Linked DNA regions of Homo sapiens: all the other regions are linked to region 2. Evidence: fine-mapped expression QTL. A gene starts in region 2. Each other region holds a variant in brackets. All regions are shown on one strand. Distances are between the middles of the regions. Region 1 overlaps LTA4H (leukotriene A4 hydrolase). Region 2 holds the start of LTA4H (leukotriene A4 hydrolase). Region 3 overlaps LTA4H (leukotriene A4 hydrolase). Region 4 has its middle 20 kb from the start of TRD-GTC2-8.

Region 1 (2,688 bases), 25 kb after region 2:
TCAGCTCAATCCAGCACACATTTATTGTCAGGCACTAATATGATGAATAAGGAACTCACAGAGCAAATATGTATGTATCAAGTAATTATAATACAATGAAAAGTATTTTTTTTAAAATATTAAGTGTTGTGGGTGAGGAAACTATTAATTTTAATGGTGATGGATTTGGACATCGTCTTGGAGATGACTTACAAAGGAGAATACAAGAAGTAAACTGTAGAACCTTAGAGGATCTTCATTTTAGAGCTAGGACAGAGGAAAGGTAGCAAAATAAATGGAAAACTAAAAAGATTTCAAAGGTTCATTGTTAAGAAAGCTGTGGGAAGAAATAATTTAAAAGTGGTACGGAGAGTGGTCAGCAGTCTGGTGTGCTGTAGAATTATGAGGAGCCTGAGAATAAAAGCATAGAATTTGGAGTTTGGAGTCTTTCAAAGACTCTAACTTCAGGGGCCTGATATAGCCAAAAGACAGTTCCAGGAAGTTTAGGAGTGGAGAAGGCTTTGCCCATTGCTTTTAAAATTGGGGAAATCTGGGTGGAAAATTAGTTCTTCAAAAGTGTTTCTTTGATATCACCGCTGCTAAGGGATCCTTTTTGGGCGTTGGTTCATTCTAGATCCCTTAAGATTGCTTTCAAGTAATACCAAAGTGCTGGAGGAACCCTGGAATCATTCGTGTGCCCGGGAATTCTGTAAAGAGAGAGTATCTTAGAAAATCTCAAACCACAGAAAATACTTTGATCCATTGCAGCACAGAATCTTGGCTTCCACGATCCTCTTTTTATAATGCTCTCATCATTTGTATATGTATTTAAATATCTGAGTCTATCCACATCTCTCCATTTCTACTACCACTGTCCAAGTTCAGTATCACATCTTCACATCCTGGAAGACTGTTCTGGCACCCAAACTGTGCACTTGTATCTGTTCTGACTTCTCCCAGCCACTCTCCACACTAAAGCTAGAGTAAACCTTTAAAAGCACAAATGTGTCATGTTGTCCTCCTGCTTAGCAGTCTCCACTGGTATCTCTTTGCTCTTGGGCTAAGACAAAATCCTTTAGTGGGGATTATAAGCTCCTAACACTCTAGCTCCCTTTGCTTCAGTCACACTGGCAGTTTTGGAGTTTCTCGAACTCCCCATATGTCCTCCAACATAGTACCTGAGCATGCTGTTTTCTCTACCCGGAGCCCTTTGCCCAGTTAATTCCAATCTCAGCTCAAGAACCACTTCCTCTTGGAAGCATTTCTTGACATCCCTGGCCAGGTCAAATCTCCCATTCTAGGGCTTTTTAGTGCTATATCCTCTCTTCGTAGCAGTTGCACAGTTCTAACTTTACATTTATTTATTCGTATGATTAAAGTATTTCCTCTTCGCTATACTGTCAGCACCATGAGAACAAGGCACATATCTGGTTTTGCTCTTTACTTTTCTGAAGACTTTGCCATAAGTAGGGTCCTTTCCCAGGCTAATTCTTAACTTAGTACTTTTAATTACACTAATAAGGAAGTTTCAGGACACGAAGAAACAGACCAGCTAAAGGTTTTCTACTTTGCTATTATTTTTTAAGAAATCAATGCTAATAATGTTTT[G/A]GTTGAAAGCAGTGTATTCTGATCAGTCAAGGACCTCTGATCCCACCTGTTCTTGAAGACAAAATGGCATGCCTGCAGTCCACAGCCTGACACTTCATGTAATAAACTGGCAGCTGCTTCGAGGTGGGAGCTGTGTTGACCTTTTTATTGTCTCCCCTAGGGAACAAACGGAGTCCCAGTCACAACTCTCTTTAAGGGAGATTCAGTGGTAACTTCTAATCAAAACTTACTTCATTTAGGCTCTAAGGGGCAGGTGCCTCTCTGTTCCCTAATACAAGCATTTCAGTACAAGCAAGCATGATTTACGGAGAAAGAGGGATGTTTTGCAAGAATTTTGCACACACTACATGTTCTTTCCCATTGTTGCAAAATATGATTTCTAAGTTGAGAACACACAAATATTGGTATAATTTGCTTAACAATTACCATGTGTTAATTTCATTTTCTTCTAAAAAGGAATGAAATCATCAGGCAATGGTATCGGGCTCTCTCAAGGGTCTAGCATCTAGAACGGTGCCAATTATGTAGCAGGTGCTTGCAGGTTTGTTAGATGATTAGATGTTTGGAACAACCAAGTAAAATCCATGACAGCAAGGACTTGATGTTGTTCATCTTGTTGTCTTGAGTGCCTAGAACTGTTCCTGCCATGTACTAAATATGCTCAACTGATTCCAACTACTTTAGCATATACTACTCGAGCACATGACAGTCTTTTGCTGAGGTGCTTTGGCATTCTTTCTAAAAGATAGATGGGTGTTTCATTAATGTGGTATCCATTTGGGTTTGTGAGTTCTTGGATGATGCCAGTAGTATGTAAGTTAGGTAAAATATTTCCTATTTTCCTCACTTTGGAGTTTGTTTTCCTTATTTAAAAGGGACTTTGAAATTTAAGTATGTACTGTAGCTTTAAAACTGCATTTCTGCAAAAGCACGTGCATTTTTAAACAATGTAATCTTTATCTTTGCAGTTATGATATGACTCTGACAAATGCTTGTATTGCCTTAAGTCAAAGATGGATTACTGTAAGTAATAATGTGTGATTTTTGATTCCTTTTTGAATTGTGCAAATATGTCTTTACTCATGAAGCAGGGAGGGTACT
Region 2 (2,688 bases):
ATCTGATTGTTTAAGTGTGTGGCACCGGCCCCGCAATCTCTTGCTCTTGCTCGGGCCATGTAGAGGCCTGCCCCTTCTTCACCTTCTGCCATGATTGTAAGCTTCCTGAGGCCTACCTGGAAGCATACTGGAGCTATGCTTCCTGTACAGCCTGCGTAACTGTAAACCAATTAAACCCCTTTTCTTCCCAGTCTCAGGTATTTATAGCAATGCAAGTACAGCCTAACATACTGTCCTCTTCATATAGACTACTACCTCTGGTTAATGACTAGCCAGCCACTGAAGCCGAAAGCCTGGGCCACCTTCGTCTCCTCTCAATCTGTGAATCCACTTATATAAGTATTCCTTCTATTCATTCCTTCCTCTCTATCCTAACTTACTACTTACCTATGTCAGGCCCCCAGCATCTTCTGATTGAGCCATTTTAATAGTTTCCTAAATCTCCTGCTAATGGTTTTGATACCGCATTTTATAACATGAGTCTGACCATGCTTTATCAGTCGCCTGCTGAAAACTCTTCAGTGGGTCCCCCATTAATGCACCCAGGATTAAAAGGCCACCTATTTAAGGTCCTTCGAAACCTAGCCTCTTCCAATTTTTCCAGTTTTAATTTTGAGGCCCCACCCTAAAGGCAAGGCATCCTTCAATCCTCCTTCACCTGCCACAAAGGCCCCAGAGCTGAGCTAGATGTCCCAGCTCTGTACTCCCATTGCGACCAGTGCATAACTTTTATAGAAATTCATTAGTTTCTAAGATGGGAATGTTGGCTTTCTCCGTTTGAGAGATGCAGGTTCTGGGGATATACATAATAAACACTGAAACTGACAAAACAACTGTTTAAACCTTGAATTACTTACAGCTAAAAACAAAAAACAATTACTGTGCCTCCCCGTCGGGGAATCGAACCCCGGTCTCCCGCGTGACAGGCGGGGATACTCACCACTATACTAACGAGGAACCGCACGAAAGAAAGCCTTCTGATAGGCCTTTTCTACGTTTTTGCTCCGCCCCGCCCTCGCTATATGCAAACACCAATGAACCTGATTTTCTTACGTTTGCCACCACAGCTTCCACGAAAGTTGAACAGAGCCAAAATGGTAGTGTTCAGTTTTATCTCCCCCTCCATTCTCATCATTTCCCTTCGGCCACCCTTCTAACTGCCCCTACTCCCCTCCTCTTCTTCAGCTCCAGGAGCACGCTTGGTCCCCCTCAACATCCCTAACACACACGCTCCCAGGTAGCCAAGCGCCCGCTTGCCGCGCGGCACCATGGAACTTGTAGTTCCTTCACCCATCCCCCAACGCTCGTCTGACTTTAAGAAACTTCCTTTCCCGGCGTGCACCGCGAATCCCTCCTCCTCTTCTTTACCTCTCTCCCTCCTCCTCAGGTTCTCTATCGACGAGTCTGGTAGCTGAGCGTTGGGCTGTAGGTCGCTGTGCTGTGTGATCCCCCAGAGCCATGCCCGAGATAGTGGATACCTGTTCGTTGGCCTCTCCGGCTTCCGTCTGCCGGACCAAGCACCTGCACCTGCGCTGCAGCGTCGACTTTACTCGCCGGACGCTGACCGGGACTGCTGCTCTCACGGTCCAGTCTCAGGAGGACAATCTGCGCAGCCTGGTACAGTGGGGCGCCTGCCCAGTGCCCGCCTCTCCCGGGCTCCCTGCCCCTCGACCCTAGTCCTTGCGGGCTCCCGGATCTCCGGCTCACCCCGCCGCGGCCCCTGCCTAGCCCCACGTCCCCGTCTGCTCTTCTGTAGCCTCCATCCAACTCATGTTGTGCACTTCAGCCCCCAGATCTCTCACAGCACCCCTTCTCAACCCCGCTTACGCCTCTGCATCCCTTCCCTCAGCCCCCACTTATACGTATGTCTCCTCCGCCCCTCGCCTGGATCCTCTCTCCGAGGTCCCTGGGCACATCCAGCGCCTCGTCCACTCCTCTCAACTCACCCAGCCCTTAGGTGTCATCTTTGCAGTAGCCCCCATAATTTTAGTTCCTGGCTCTAATTACTCCATGGCCTCCCCATTGCTTCGGCCTGCGGCCCAGAACCCCCTTCTTCAGGCCCCAGACTTTTCCCAGCCCCCTGGGCACCTTCCTCAGTCAACAATCTCACCCAAGTCTCAGATCCCATGTCCTGTCGATCCCTGATCCCACGGTTGCCTCCCGGGAACACTTATTTCAATCCACAGGTCTGCAGGGCACCACCCATCCGTCTCCCTCCTAGTTCCCTGGATCTCCCTGCTAGTCGTTCTCAAGCCTCTTAGGATTTCCAGCCCCGGCCGGGCAGGCCTCTTCTTTCCGCCCTACTTTGAAACTAACAGTCCCTGCTTGCTAACTCTAGGCGCAGCTCTCTCTCTTCAGGGTCCTTTCTACTTTTTAATCTTATCAACTTTCTTCTAATAATTTAAGAACGGATGGGACGTTCAAATTTTCTAAGGATGATTCAATACGCTTTTTTAATAGTTGGTTCCAAGGAGCCAAGTAGTTATTTCACTTAGAAAACACATACTTCTACAAACTCTATAACCATTGGAATGAAGAAAGGTTGTAGATTCATGGAATATTATTCAATGATTTTATCTGTATCATAACCTATATTTAATGTTCTTGCTCAAATTGCCCAATAGTATTTGGTTTATACCTTTCATCTGAAGGTACCTTTCACCTGAAGAATTTCATAGAAGATCATTT
Region 3 (2,688 bases), 20 kb after region 2:
CCACCTTGGCCTCCCAAAGTGCTAGGATTACAGGTGTGAGCCACCATGCCCAGCTATTTTTTTTTTTTAATTGGAGACAAGGTCTCACTCTGTGGCCCAGGCTGTAGTGCAGTGGTGCAATCTCTGCTAACTGCAACTCCAGGGTTGCAATCCTCCCTCCTCAGCCTCCAAAGTGGCTGAGACTAAAGGCGCATGCCACTATGCCTGGCTAATTTTTGTATTTTTTATAGAGATGGGATTTCACCATGTCGCCCAGACTGGTCTCAAACTCCTGAGCTCAAGTGATCCGCCCACCTCGGCCTCCCAAAGTGCTGAGATTATAGGCATAAGCCGCCACGCCCAGCCAACAAGGATTTTTTTTTTTTTTTTTTTTTTGAGATGGAGTCTCACTCTGTCGCCCAGGCTGGTGTGCAGTAGTGTGATCTCTCTGCCTCTCAGTTCAAGCAATTCTTGTGCCTTAGCCTCCCGAGTATCTGGGACTACAGGTGCACGCCACCATGCTCAGCTCATTTTTGTATTTTTAGTAGAGACGGGGTTTCACCATGTTGGCCAGGCTGGTCTTGAACTCCTGACCTCAGATAATTCTCCCGCCTCGGCCTCCCAAAGTGCTAGGATTACAGGCGTGGGCCACCATGCCCGGCCAACAAGGATAGTTCTTAAAAATTCTGTAACACTTATTACAGCGTTAGGAGTGTTAGGTTCAGTCTAGGTGTTAAGTTTAATTCCTGATATACTCCCACTTTTAACATAGGGACATGCAAGAGCAGAAGCAGGGCTTAACTTTCCCTGCTGCCATCTGCTGGGCTGGGCTTCCCATTGCTCTGGATTGACTGCCTGGGAGCCAGAGTCGGCTTAGACTGTAGTGGTCATGCCTTACAACTGCTTTCCTCTGTAGAAAAGCCAAAAAGAAAATATCTTGATTGAAATGTCTTTTCTTCTCAGCTGTGTCCGTGTTTTTATTAAAATATTTTTTTTTCAGGTTAAATGAGGGACATACTGTGTACTTGGAACGCCACATTTGCGGACGATTGTTTGGTGAAAAGTTCAGACATTTTAATGCTCTGGGAGGATGGGGAGAACTACAGAATTCGGTAAAGGAGTCAAAGTTTTAAAAACCTTCATCCAAAGTTGTATAGGTGTTAAAAACTGAGTTTTTATAAAAGCGTCTTTACTGTGTAGCAACCAAAAAGTCATTTTTACAAGTGTGGAAAGTGAAGTCAATGCTGGTATAACACTGTGTTGATCCACACTGTTCACTGTTCTATGTAAGGTAGTTTTGATGACCTGGTCTAAATAGGGAGCTGTGGGACCTCACTGGGTCTTTGCTATTAATATAGCTGTTTACTATGTTTGCATCTTATTTGGTATGTCATTTTTAAGTGTTGTCTCCTGAAAGCCAAATTTGCTGACCAGGCATTAAATCATTTTTCTAGTCTTTTTATAAGAATAAAGCCTGTATTATTGAGCAAGAAACA[A/T]CAGAGAATATTACTTAAGTAAGCATTCTATTAATAGACTTCCAGAAGTTTATGCCAACATATCCTAGTGTTCCAGTCTCCAAGTTTTAGATTCCCCTAAAGTTACACCACTGAGTGAAGTAATACCTCCTTATTAGCTTATTTGCGTGGTGATAGCAGTCTTTCTATATGTTTCTCCATGTTATTTCATGTCTTGCAGGTAAAGACATTTGGGGAGACACATCCTTTCACCAAACTTGTGGTTGATCTGACAGATATAGACCCTGATGTAGCTTATTCTTCAGTTCCCTATGAGAAGGGCTTTGCTTTACTTTTTTACCTTGAACAACTGCTTGGAGGACCAGGTAAGTAGTTGGTATTTTATGATTTTTTTTTTCTTTTTGAGGGTAATGTGAGAATTAGGAAGAATTGTAAACTATTGTTTTGTTCCATTTAATACTTCCAATTCATTCTGGATGTAGCTGCTGAAGAAATCTGTATTGTTTTCTGAGTTACCTCTCAACTTAAAACCATTAATAACCCCTAAGGTTTAAATTATGCTGCTTCATTTTTTAAAAAATCTCATCAGTTTTTGAAATTAGGATAATAGTGTGTATTCCCTGAAAACATTTCTATGGTACAGAAGTTTATAAGAGTAACAAGTGAGAGTCCATCAACCCCTTTCCACTCCCCAGGGGTAACCACTGTTAGCAGTTTGGTGTAAATGGCTCCAGATCATTTTCTAGGTGTAAATTAACAAGCAGACAAATAAATACATGTAATTATTTTAATTACAAAAAATGGGTCATGCTATATATTGGCTCTGCATTTGTGTTTTGTTTTGCTCGATATTTCACATACACCCTTCTGTGTCAGTACATATAAATCTGTTTCATACTTTTTAATGCCATCATACTAGTTCATGATAAAGCTATGCTGAGTTATGTACCCATCCCCCACTGATGGACATTGAGGTGTTCTCCTTGGTTGATTGACTTGGAAGGCTGTCTGTCACCTGGATCCATTCTGCCTGTCCAGTCTTATTTTTCTCCTTTCTAGTCATGTGAAGGTTATTGCTTTTAGAACTTGGGTTATGCATTCCTTTTCTGTGTCTTCATGTGTTATCCCCTTACCTATAATTAGAATTTCTCTTCTCCCTTCCACTGAATTACATATATTCTTCAAGGCCCAACTTAAGTCCCACCTCCTTTTTTGAACATTCTTTCACTCTGAA
Region 4 (2,688 bases), 20 kb before region 2:
GGTGGGGGTGGGGTGGGTTCCTGAACGCTTGTCAGAGAAGGCGGAATAGAAGCTAGTGTTAAAAGAAACAGTTTAGACAAATTAAATTTAACAGAGTTTATTTGGGCAAAGAATGATTCATGAATCAGGCAGCACTCAGAACCAGAAGAGGTTCAGAAAACTCCACTTGGCAGTGTGAGCAATGAGCTTTTCTAGGGTGAACACAAAAGCAATGTAGAGAAACCACTTGATCGGCAACAGCTAGGCATCTGCCTTATTGGGCGTGGTCTCATCAATTGGATGCTTATTATTGGCTGAAGCTTCTCTGTGATTGGCTGAAACCAGGCTATATGTTACAAAAATATACTCCTAAATTAGGTTTCAGTTTGTTTACATACTATTAGGTTGCTGTTTGTTCCACAGAAACTCAAAATATGGAGAGGGCCTCTGGCCAATGGCCTCGTGCTTATTTAATTTAACACTAGGTAGATAAAAAACAACAAATATTTCTATAGTATGGGTAAGATATATTGAGAACACAATAAACAGGTGCCTAAATCTGCATGTGAGTCACAGAAGACATCACAGCAGAGGGTAAATCCGAGTTGATGCTTGAAAAAGGAGCAGGAGTTTGCTGACAGGCAGGGAAAGCCAGGAGGATTGGGAGGGAAGGGGTCCCAGTGGCAAGAATGGCCTATGCAGAGTCACAAAAGAAAATAAACTATGTGTCCATCAGACATGGCTTGGGTGTGTGTTCCCATCAAATCCATGTGGAATTGTAGTCCCCAGTGTTGGAGGTGGGGCCTGGCGGGGAGGTGATTGGATCATGGGGGCGGATTTCTCATGAATGGTTTCGCATCATCGCCTTGGTGCTGTTCCTTTGGTGCTGTTCCCGTGATAGTGAGTGAGTGCTTGTGAGATTAGGTTTTTTAAAAGTGTACATCACCTCCTCTCTAGCTCTCTCTTGCTCTTGCTCCCACTATGTGAGACACCTCGCACCCCCTTTGCCTTCCGCCGTGATTGGAAGCTTCCTGAGGCCTCCCCAGAAGCAGAAGCCACCAGGATTCCTGTGAAGCCTGCAGAACCATGAGCCAATTAAACCTCCTTTCTTTTCTTTTCTTTTCTTTCTTTTTTTTTTTTTTGAGACGGATTTCCGCTCTTTCGCCCAGGCCGGACTGCAGTGGTGCAATCTTGGCTCACTGCAAGCTCCGCCTCCCGGGTTCATGCCATTTTCCTGCCTCAGCCTCCGGAGTAGCTGGGACTACACGCAACCGCCACCACACCCGGGTAATTTTTTGTATTTTTTTTTAGTAGAGACGGGGTTTCACCATTTTAGCCAGGATGGTCTCCATCTCCTGACCTCGTGATCCACCCGCCTCGGCCTCCCAAAGTGCTGGAATTACAGGCATGAGCCACCGCGCC[T/C]GGCCAATCTCCTTTCTTTGTAAATTACCCACTCTCAGGGTTTTTTTTTTTTTTTTTTTTTTTTTTGAGATAGAGTCTTGCTCTGTCACCCAGACTGGAGTACAGTGGTGCGATCTCGGCTCACTGCAACCTCCGCCTCCTGGGTTCAAGTGATTCTTCTGCCTCAGCCTCCCGAGTAGCTGGGATTACAGGCGCCTGCCACCACACCCAGCTAATTTTTGTATTTTTAGTAGAGATGGGGTTTCACCATAAGCCAGGCTGGTCTTGAACTCCTGACCTCGTGATCCACACGCCTCGGCCTCCCAAAGTCCTGGGATTACAGGTATGAGTCACCGTGCCTGGCTTCTTCTTCTTTTTTTTTTTTTTTGAGATGGAGTCTTGCTCTGTCACCCAGGCTGGAGTGCAGTGGCGCAATCTCGGCTCACTGCCACCTCTGCCTCCCGGGTTCAAGCAATTCTCTGCCTCAGCCTCCCAAGTAGGTAGGATTACAGATGCCTGCCACTACACCTGGCTAATTTTTGTATTTTTAGTAGAGACGGGTTTCACCATCTTGGCCAGGCTGGCCTTGAATTCCTGACCTCATGATCCACCCGCCTCGGCCTCCCAAAGTGTTGGGATTACAGGCGTGAGCCACCGCGCCCAGCAGATATTTCTTTATAGCAGTGCGAGAACGGACTAACTCACCATCTTTTTGCACAAGGCAGAGAGCCAGATTAAAAAGGCAGGTTGTGGAGCCTGATTGCTTGGTTTGAATTCCGGTTGAATCTTGGCTGCTTACTTAATTGCACCATGCTTCAGTTCACCATCTGTAAAATGGGAATAGTAATAGTACCTACCTCTCAGGCTGTTGCCAGGATTAATTGAAATGTGTTAATACATTTAAAGTGCGTAGAAGAGGGCCTGGGATATAGGAAGTGCTAAAAACAATTGCTAAATAAATCCAATGAAGTAAAATAAAATTGGTGTGATTATTAATTCATGCTGTGCTACAACCTACTTTAAAATAATGGCCTACAATTACTTGGTTCAATGCACTATAAATTTGGTTTAAAAGATCACAACAAAAGAACAACATGACTTTCTCATGATCATTTATATAGGTAACATACAATCCAGTTCCTTCTCATATATAAATTTCCCTGTTTGTAGTCATAGTGTTGTTACACTGTTATCCCACAGTTCCACATTTTATAGGAAATGTAGTTTCTCCTTCCGGCTTTTGTTGCCTAAGGTCTAATCTTGCAGACTTATTATAGCAAAATGTTGCTCAATTTAGCCCACCCAGTC

What was found. PIP is the estimated chance that this variant, and not a neighbour inherited with it, causes the effect.
Region 1: its variant is fine-mapped to the expression of LTA4H in whole blood (INTERVAL, PIP 0.95).
Region 3: its variant is fine-mapped to the expression of LTA4H in whole blood (INTERVAL, PIP above 0.99).
Region 4: its variant is fine-mapped to the expression of LTA4H in whole blood (INTERVAL, PIP above 0.99).

The regions. Positions count from the first base shown.
Region 1 is chr12:96,009,016-96,011,703 of GRCh38, reverse strand. It overlaps LTA4H (leukotriene A4 hydrolase), which reads left to right. Exons shown (of 19, transcript NM_000895.3): 15 at 2,556-2,610. LOC102723340 (a long non-coding RNA gene) reads right to left here. Exons shown (of 4, transcript XR_945237.4): 4 at 1-1,743. Among named protein-coding and RNA genes, the nearest start is that of HAL, 14 kb to the right of the region's middle. RefSeq lists enhancers at 321-490, 1,123-1,292. The variant G/A (reference allele first, on the strand shown) is at 1,588.
Region 2 is chr12:96,034,290-96,036,977 of GRCh38, reverse strand. It overlaps LTA4H (leukotriene A4 hydrolase), which reads left to right and starts at 1,391. Exons shown (of 19, transcript NM_000895.3): 1 at 1,391-1,617. The coding sequence starts at 1,459. TRD-GTC2-8 (tRNA-Asp (anticodon GTC) 2-8) reads right to left here and starts at 957; the gene lies at 886-957. RefSeq lists enhancers at 633-682, 703-752, 1,193-1,612, 2,203-2,292 and a silencer at 1,663-1,762.
Region 3 is chr12:96,013,986-96,016,673 of GRCh38, reverse strand. LTA4H (leukotriene A4 hydrolase) reads left to right here. Exons shown (of 19, transcript NM_000895.3): 11 at 980-1,091; 12 at 1,675-1,819. Among named protein-coding and RNA genes, the nearest start is that of HAL, 19 kb to the right of the region's middle. The variant A/T (reference allele first, on the strand shown) is at 1,476.
Region 4 is chr12:96,054,432-96,057,119 of GRCh38, reverse strand. No RefSeq gene overlaps it. Among named protein-coding and RNA genes, the nearest start is that of TRD-GTC2-8, 20 kb to the right of the region's middle. The variant T/C (reference allele first, on the strand shown) is at 1,402.